Homo sapiens: one gene and its partner. The protein of the gene in region 1 purifies or fractionates together with the protein of each later gene. This does not show direct contact. Each region holds a gene or a part of one and is shown in the gene's direction. Other genes may lie near its edges.

Evidence for each region.
Region 2: the proteins of TMOD2 (region 1) and SULT1C3 fractionate together in Homo sapiens (co-fractionation; one large-scale study listed by BioGRID). This does not show direct contact.

The regions. Positions count from the first base shown.
Region 1 is NC_000015.10:51,760,830-51,766,161, forward strand, and holds part of TMOD2 (tropomodulin-2), read left to right. Parts: intron 1-5,332. UniProt on the Homo sapiens protein: Blocks the elongation and depolymerization of the actin filaments at the pointed end. The Tmod/TM complex contributes to the formation of the short actin protofilament, which in turn defines the geometry of the membrane skeleton.
Region 2 is NC_000002.12:108,246,468-108,249,967, forward strand, and holds part of SULT1C3 (sulfotransferase 1C3), read left to right. Parts: intron 1-720; 5' UTR 721-727; coding exon 728-899; intron 900-3,500.

The DNA.
Region 1 (5,332 bases):
ATCCTTAATCTAATCACAACTCATTTGTTTTGCCATGTAAAGTAACATATAGATGTGAGGAATAGGAGGAGGACGTATTTAGGTGGCCATGATTCTGCCTACCACAGAGAGCAAATAAGCCATTTTAGCCGAAGTGGGCTCCCCAGGAAAGTAACGAGAGAGAAAACAGGAAGTGCAGGTTAAAGCCAAATCATGGGAGCTTTGGAGCTAGATTGTCTGGATTTCATTCTGTGGACAAGAGGGAGCCATTGTAAGTTCTTAACCAGGGAAGTGGCTTGTTAGCAGTGTTGAGAAAAATGATCCAATTATAGTGTTCTGGGTAGCTTACAGGGAAAAACAGAAATCTTTCAAGATGCAATCAGAGTAGTGCAGGTATGAAGGAACAAAAGGCTGAAACAAGAGTGAAAAGAAGGGGTGGTGTGAAAAATGTTGTGCAATAAGGACCTGCAGGAGGTGCTGACCGGCTGGACTCAGAAAAAAAAGTGGGAGAGTCTGAAGCTGGTCTGAGTGTTGGGAGTGTCTGACTGGTAGATTAATCTAGACGGCAACTCTGTTTAGAGAAAAATTGGGAGTTTAGGTTTAGTTAGAGAATCCAGCAATAGAAATCCAAATAGAGGCTGGGCACTGTGGCTCATGCCTGTAATTCCAGCACTTTGGGAGGCTGAGGCAGGAGGATTGCTTGAGCCCAGGAATTCAAGACCAGCCTGGGCAATATAGTAAGACCTCATCTCTGCAAAAAAGAAAAAAAAATTTAATTAGCTGGGCATGGTGATACACACCTGTAGACCCAGCTACTCGAGGGACTGAAGCAGGAAGATCATTTGAGCCCAGGAATTGGAGGCTGCAGTTAGCTATGATCAAGCCAGCCTGGGCAACAGAATGAGACCCTGTCTTTAAAAAAAAAAAAAAATTCAAATAGAATCTTATAAACTCTAAGATACCATTGATTGTAAAACTCTCCAGTATTTTATGTATCACTAAGAAAAAAAGGCTGGCAATCAAAATATAACATGTTTTCTTAAAAATACAAATTTTTGGCCGGGCACGGTGGCTCATGCCTGTAATCCCAGCACTTTGGGAGGCCGAAACAGGCAGATCACGAGGTCAGGAGATCGAGACCATCCTGGCTAACACTGTGAAACCCTGTCTCTACTAAAAATACAAAAAAAATTATCCGGGCGTGGTGGCGGGCACCTGTAGTCCCAGCTACTCAGGAGGCTGAGGCAGGAGAATGGCATGAACCCGGGAGGTGGAGCTTGCAGTGAGCCGAGATTGCGCCACTGCACTCCAGCCTGGGTGTGAGTGTGAGACTCTGCCTCAAAAAAAAAAAAAAATACAAATTTTTGGCTGGGCACAGTGGCTCATACCTGTAATTCCAGCACTGTGGTAGGCCAGGCTGGGAGGATTGTTTGAAGACTGGAGTTGGAGACCAGCCTGGACAACATAGTGAGATCCTGTATCTTCAAAAAATAAAAAAAAAATAGCCCGGCATGGTGGTGCACACCTGTAGTCCTAGCTACTTAGGAGACTGATGTGGGAGAATCGCTTGAGCCCAAGAGGTCAAGGCTGCAGTGAGTTGTACTGACATACAACTGAACTCAAGCCTGGCAACAGACTGAGACCGTGTCTCAAAAAATAATAATAATTTTTACTTTATTGAAAGAGCTGTTTTCGACTTCCACATAGGTTTTTTGAAATCTTTTTTACTGAAGTGTAAATGACATACAATAAAGTGCACATATTTCAAGTGTACAGTTTGATAAGTTTTGATATATGCATGTATGTGTGAAACCATCACCACAATCAAGGTAGTAAACATATGCAACATCCCCAAAAGGTTCCCCATGCCCCTATGTCATTCCTCTCATCAGCCCCTCCCACCTCTCTCCCATGCCTAAGCAACTGTGATTTCTTTCTGTCATATAAATTAGTTTATGTGTTCTAAAATTTTAGATAAATGGAATCCTGCAGTATACATTCTTTTTGGTCTTCTTTCTCTCATTATAATTATTTTGAGGTTCATCCATGTTTTTGTGTACATCAATAGTTCATTCCCTTTTATTGCTGAGAAGTATTCCATTATGTGGATATACGACAATTTGTTTATTTTTATTTATTTATTTAGGGACAGGGTCTTATTCTGTTGCCCAGGCTGGAGTGCAGTGGTGCAATCATAGCTCACTGCATCCTCGACCTCCTGGCTGAAGCAATTCTCCCACCCCAACCTCCCGAATAACTGGGACTACAGGCATGTGCCACCATGCCCAGCTAATTTTTAAAAAAAAAAATTGTAGAAACGGGGTCTCACTGTGTTGCCCAGGCTGGTCTCAAATTCCTGGGCTCAAGAAATCCTCCTGCCTCAGCCTCCCAAAACATTGGGACTACAGGCGTGAGCCACTGCACCTGGTCACAATTTGTTTTTTATTCATTTACTATCATTCACATTGTTTTCAATTTTTGGCAATTACAAATAAATGTGCTATGAATATACATGGATTTTTAAAATCATATATCTCTCCTGTGCATACATTAAAAGGGGAAATGTAAGTGAAATGCATTCATTAGTTGATATTCTTAAAACTTCTTCACACTCAGAGTCCAACATTTTAGATCACTATTTTACTTATCCATATCTGGTTCTTTTCCACATAATAATTTCCTCTGTGCCATCGAGTGGTAATTTAAAAAATCTGTAAAAAAACAAAACTAAAACTAAAAGCCATTGAACTGGGCACTTAAACTCACTCTGTAATTATGTGGAACTGTCCTAATCTGGGCCTCTCTTCAGGAGTGCTGCTAAACATACCTGCATTGTCACCTCCCCACGATTGTCTGCTTTCTAAATTTTAAAAGAGTATTCCACAGTTGTCCCTGGGATTTCCTTCCAAGACCTTTACATCCACTCTGCTAGTTTTGAAGTTGGTGCTTTTGATATTTAGGTATATACAAGCAATGACAAGTACATTTTTACTGCTGCTGGGACAACAGTAATTGTAGGACACCATGAATTCTAAGACACATCTCAATTTCAGAATGTTAAATGTGGCAAAGTATGCATTTTAGAATCCATTAAGTAGGGTGCTTCAACCAATTCATTTGATGGATAAGGGCCTGGAAGATGCCATCCTTGTCCTGTGTGATGCAGTAAGTTAGTGGTAGCTGGCACCAGAACAAAGTGTATAGGATCCAATTGGTTTCTCTGACTTTAGTAGAATTTTTGTTTGTTTATTTACTAGAATATAGTCATTAAAGATTTAAAAAAAAAAAAGGAGGGCTGGGAGACCTCATCTCTACAAAAAAAAATTAAAAATTAGCTAGGCATCGTGGCACATGCCTGTAGTCCCGGGCTTCGTGTTGCACACTTGTAATCCCAGCTACTCCAGAGGTTGAGGTGGGAGGATCACTTGAGCCCAGGAGCTGGAGGTTGCAGTGAGCCGAGATGGTACCACTGCATTCCAGCCTGGGCAACAGAGGGAGACCCTATCTCTAAATTAATAAATAAGAAGCTGAGCTAATGGAAAAGAGCGTTGCATTGCATGTGAAAGGGGTATCGACACAGAAACCACAAACCTGAACATTGTGAGCCGTTGAATTCACAAAGGAAAGGGAACACTATTCCAATAGCCCTTAAGAGGCCCACCTGCAGCCAGTCTCGTTCCATGCCAACTCATTCTTCATTCTTATGATTTGAACTCATAAAAAAAGATTGGCGTGCTCAGATCACTCCCCTACTTTAAGAAGCTGTGGTGGCTTGCCATTCCCAACAGAATAAAGTTCAGGTCCCTTAGCAAGGCGCAGAAGGAAGGCCCTTCACAGATGTCCCACCCTCGTCTTTAGTTCTTTCCTCTCCCTTCCTCCATGAATCCCCCTCTGTAGCCATGCCGCCTGCTCTACCAGCATATCATTTACTGTCTTATCCTGTACCCCTTTGTGCTGTTCCCTTTTCCTAGAATGACACTTGCCCATTCATGTCCACCTTATGACCTCCTCCTTCAATGTTCAAACACAGCCTCTTTTTCACAGTTTCCCCTCAAACTTCCCCCACTTACTCAGTGATTATTTCCCCATGTGTTTTCAAACCTACTTTTTACATTATGTCTAATACTTACGGCATTATTGCTGTTTGTGTGAGAGTCTCACTAAGCTGTGATCTTGGGGAGAGGGGGCATTTTGATAAATATAATTTTTTTTTTGAGAGAGTCTCACTCTGTCACCCAGGCTGGAGTGCAGTGATGCCATCTCAGCACTGCAACCTCTGCCTCCCGGGTTCAAGCAATTCTCCTGCCTCAGCCTCCCGACTAGCTGGGACTACAGGCACATGCCACCACACCCAGCTAATTTTTGTATTTTTAGTAGAGATGGGGTTTCACCATATTGGTCAGGCTGGTCTCAAACTCCTGACCTCAGGTGATCCACCTGCCTTGGCCTTCCAAAGTGCTGGGATTACAGGCGTGAGCCAACGTTCCTGGCCTCCTCATGTGTTTTTAAACCTACTTTATACGTTACGTCTAATACTTATGACATTATTGCTATTTGTGTGCCTGTCTCACTAAGCTGTGATCTTCTTGGGGAAAGGTGGCATATCTTGTTTATCTTTGTATTTCTGTTTGCTAGAACTATGCCTGGCAAATAGTAGGTATATAACAAATATTTATTGGCCTGAAAGATGTGATTGGTGGTAATACCTCCTAAGGAGAAACACAGTCAGTGAAGTACATTACTGTTTCCTGAATGAGTATTATCTTTCTAAGGAAGATCTGTAGAATCCTCTGCAAGGAGAAAGGGATTGAGTAAAAATTGCATTTTGGGTGAATATTTAGAAGTGAGGTGGTATAAAAAATAAGGGTCGAGAGAAGAACGGTCTGAGGGTATAAAGAATGAATACGTAGAACAAAAAGGAAATGGGACTAGAAATAGAATGGAAAACAAAGCAAGGAGAAAAATAGAGAGAGTGATCATGTGGCCAGGATTTTAGAATCGCACTTAGTTTAATTGCAGGGGAGTTACTGGACAATGCTTTCTCACATAGACGTTCCAAACTCTCGTTCCTGAATGAATCCCATTTTGTATTCTTCACATCACTCTCTCCCTGAAAAGACACAAGTATGCTTCTTACAACTGCCTTACAATTAGTGCATTGTTCTCCCCTGTTTTTCTATGGAGAGCCAGGGAAGGCAGAGTAGTATAAGGGAAAAGCACCCACTATGCTGGGAATCAGAAGGCGGGGCTCACGCATCCCAGCTCTGTGACCTCGAGCAAGGCACTAGGCCACTTTCACCTCAGAATTGTCATCTATAAAATGGGAATGATAATATCGTCACGGGCTTCCTCA
Region 2 (3,500 bases), on another chromosome or scaffold:
GAGCTTGTGCAGGGGAACTCCCCCTTATAATGGGTGGGGACACAGGCGAACCATATCAGACCCCAACTAAATTCCAAGTTTCCAGAGTTAGTAGACATGAGAGTTTTCAGGTACATGGGTACAAGAGAGTTTTTTCTGCTGTAACCCATGACTGATATTTCAAAAATTATTCCATGAATGAAAAAAAAACTACATGAAATTATGTTTTTTGAAGATTTTCTCTGTGAAAACTATTCAAGAAAATTGAGTATAGAATGCTCCTTAAAACCATTGTTTTGAATTTTCTTCAATGTAATTGTCTCGCTTCTAATTATACAAAATAATATCTTGAAGACAATGAAGCAATATATGACACATAACCCATTATATTCCCGATTAACAAGTAATATGGTTGTTAGGTCATGCAGCAGGAAAAAGACTATTTGGGTATAAATCTCAGCCCCAACAGGTATTGATTATTTTACTTTTATCAAATTATTTAAACTTATAATGACTTAAGTTTCCACATGTAGAAAACAGAAAAAACTATTACCTATTTTATGTGGTTGCTATGAAGATTAAATAATTAATGTACATAGAGTAAGTTGTTAGCATGTTATATGTTAGCTTTCACTTATTTTATGCTATTCTAATCAAAGGCAGTAAGATGATAACCCATACTATGAACCATAAAACAACATTTTTAAAAATTTTAATTAGTATTGATCTTACCCATCCCAGATTCCCAATGGCGAAGATTGAGAAAAACGCTCCCACGATGGAAAAAAAGCCAGAACTGTTTAACATCATGGAAGTAGATGGAGTCCCTACGTTGATATTATCAAAAGAATGGTGGGAAAAAGTATGTAATTTCCAAGCCAAGCCTGATGATCTTATTCTGGCAACTTACCCAAAGTCAGGTAAGGGTAGCAAAACATAAAAATATTCAATATTTTCACGTGAAATTATTGCATAATCTGTATTGATAAATGAAGCATGATTGGGATTTGGAGAGAAACAATTCCTCATTATGGAGATCTGTTCTTTGGTGCTGCAGGACATTTAGCATTCCTGATCCCTAGGACAACAATTTCCAATAGCACTCTCTGAAGAGAACAGAAAAGATTTCTAAATGCTTTGGTAGTAGGGCAGATAATGCTCCCATTCCAGAACCCATAGCATACATCAAATATAAGGTCAACAAATTGAAAGACCTATGGCTTTTTTAAACATCAACCCTCAAGACAGCCTTCTAAAAGCATGTCCTACTCCAAATATTAATCTATTATCTCAGATATTAAACACAAATTGATTTTCTAATCCTCTAAAGCTCTTGGAGGATGTCAGCCATGAATTTTCTGCTCTGTACCAAATTAGTCTCATTCAGAAAAGCCCAATGACTGACCTTGATTTAAAATGCCTTAGATTTCTAATTCTTCTCTAAAAATTCCTAGACTGGAACACATGCTAGAGTCAATGGGCACACCTAATGCCCAGAACTCACTTTCGATAGGCCATTCTCCATTAAAATGAACCACAGCTATTAGGAGAATTGATGATCCCACTCTTGGGAATAGAATATGCAAGGGGAATGTACTACATCTTCTTTTTGAAGGAGTAAGTGATCAGTATATATTCCCAGAATTGTTTGTTTGTATTAAATGTCTGTAAAAATAAAGCACACATAATAACAAAAAAATTGATGGGGACATGTAGAAGGATACAAGAACCAACGTGAAGGGGCTCTCACAGTAGCCACATTTGGGACAGTTTGAGCATCCAAAAGAATGATCACTAACTGATTGGGAGAACATTAAATAAAAACCTCCTGGTCAGCCATGCCGAAGGGACAAGATTGGATGTGTACTCCAGCCATAATAAAAAAGGAAACTGGATAAAATATATGAAACCACTGGTTTCTGACCTTGGATGACAGTTGTCTCAATCCTCAGACTGAAGATGCTTTCTGAATAGGGTATAGTTATAGGGTGCAAAAGAAAAAGCCATAGCAAACTCATTGAGTTCAAGAGCCAGGTGTAGGAGTTCTGAGAGGTTGAAGTGGCTGCTATTTGCAGGTAAGAGTACCAGACAGAAGGAAACTACACAAATAAATACCTTTAGATATCTTTAGAGAGGACCCTTTTAGTTTATTGTTGAATGGTAGACTGCACTTCCATAGAGCCTATAGCTCCATGAGATCAGGCAAGGAACCACCAGAAAACTATTAGCCATATAATTCCTAGAGATTATACAAGCATGAGAGACTTTTGTGCTCCAATCAGGATAGGATGGACAGAATTTTGGTCCCCATGACATTAGTCCTCTGTTATTACATCTGCCGTTATTTCAGATTACATTCCCAAAAGGATTTTGCAGTTGCTATTAAACTATCTAATCAGCTGATATTAAAATAGGGAGATTATTCTGGACTATCTTGACGGACCCAGTGGAATCATGTGAACAGGAAGTCAGAGAGATGTGGCAGAGGAGAAAGTCTGAGAAATTTAAAGTATAATAAAAGTTCACTGCATGATTATAGATTTAATGATGAAGAGAGAAAGTATCAACAAAACAGTTATCTCAATACTACAGCCACAAGCAACTGAATTCTGTTGGCATCTAGGAGCTTGGCAAAACACCCTGAAGTCCCAGATGAGAATGGCAGCCCTAGCTGATACCTTGATTTTAGCCTAGTGAGACCCTAAACAGAGGACTAGCCATGTTAACCCCAATTTCTAATCTACAGAAACTATGACCGAATATTCAGGTGTTGTTTTAACTCATGAAGCTTGTGGTAATTTGTTAACCACAAAGTCTTCAACCTAGAATTCCATATACCCAGTAAAAATAATATATTAAAATATTACTAAAAATAAAGGTCAAAGACTTTTTCTCTGACAGCGAAAAGCTGAATGTGTTGCCCGCACAGCTGCACTAAAAATAAATAAATAAAAAGTTATATTAAAGAAATTTATTCAGAGTAACAGAAAATAATAGTATACAAAACTTTATTATCTTTCAACATTCCAGCAACACACAGTTGGAATATGACATTTTAAAAATACCATTGATAAAATAAATAGCACCTGAAAACATGAAATATTCAGAAATGAACTTAACAAAGCTGTGCATGATTTGAAAGTGAAAACACTACGGAGAGAAATTGTATAAGACTTAAATAAATAAGGAGGCATACCCTATCTACGGATCAAAAGGATCAATATTTTTAAGATATCAACTGTTTCAAAATTAATGTATAAATTCAATCTCAATCACAAACTGACAAATTGATTCCAAGATTTCTATGAAAATGTCATTAAAAGCAAATATTTTTGATAGAGTAAAGTGGCAGGGTTTATATTAACTGATTTCATGACATTTAACTCAGCTTCAACATTCAAAAGACTGTGATACTGTTGATATTGTTGATAGACATAAATACTTGACCCTTACTTGGTGCCAGATGCAAAAAAGTCAAAGTGCAATGCATCAGACCTCAAAAAATTAAAATTAAATCTCTA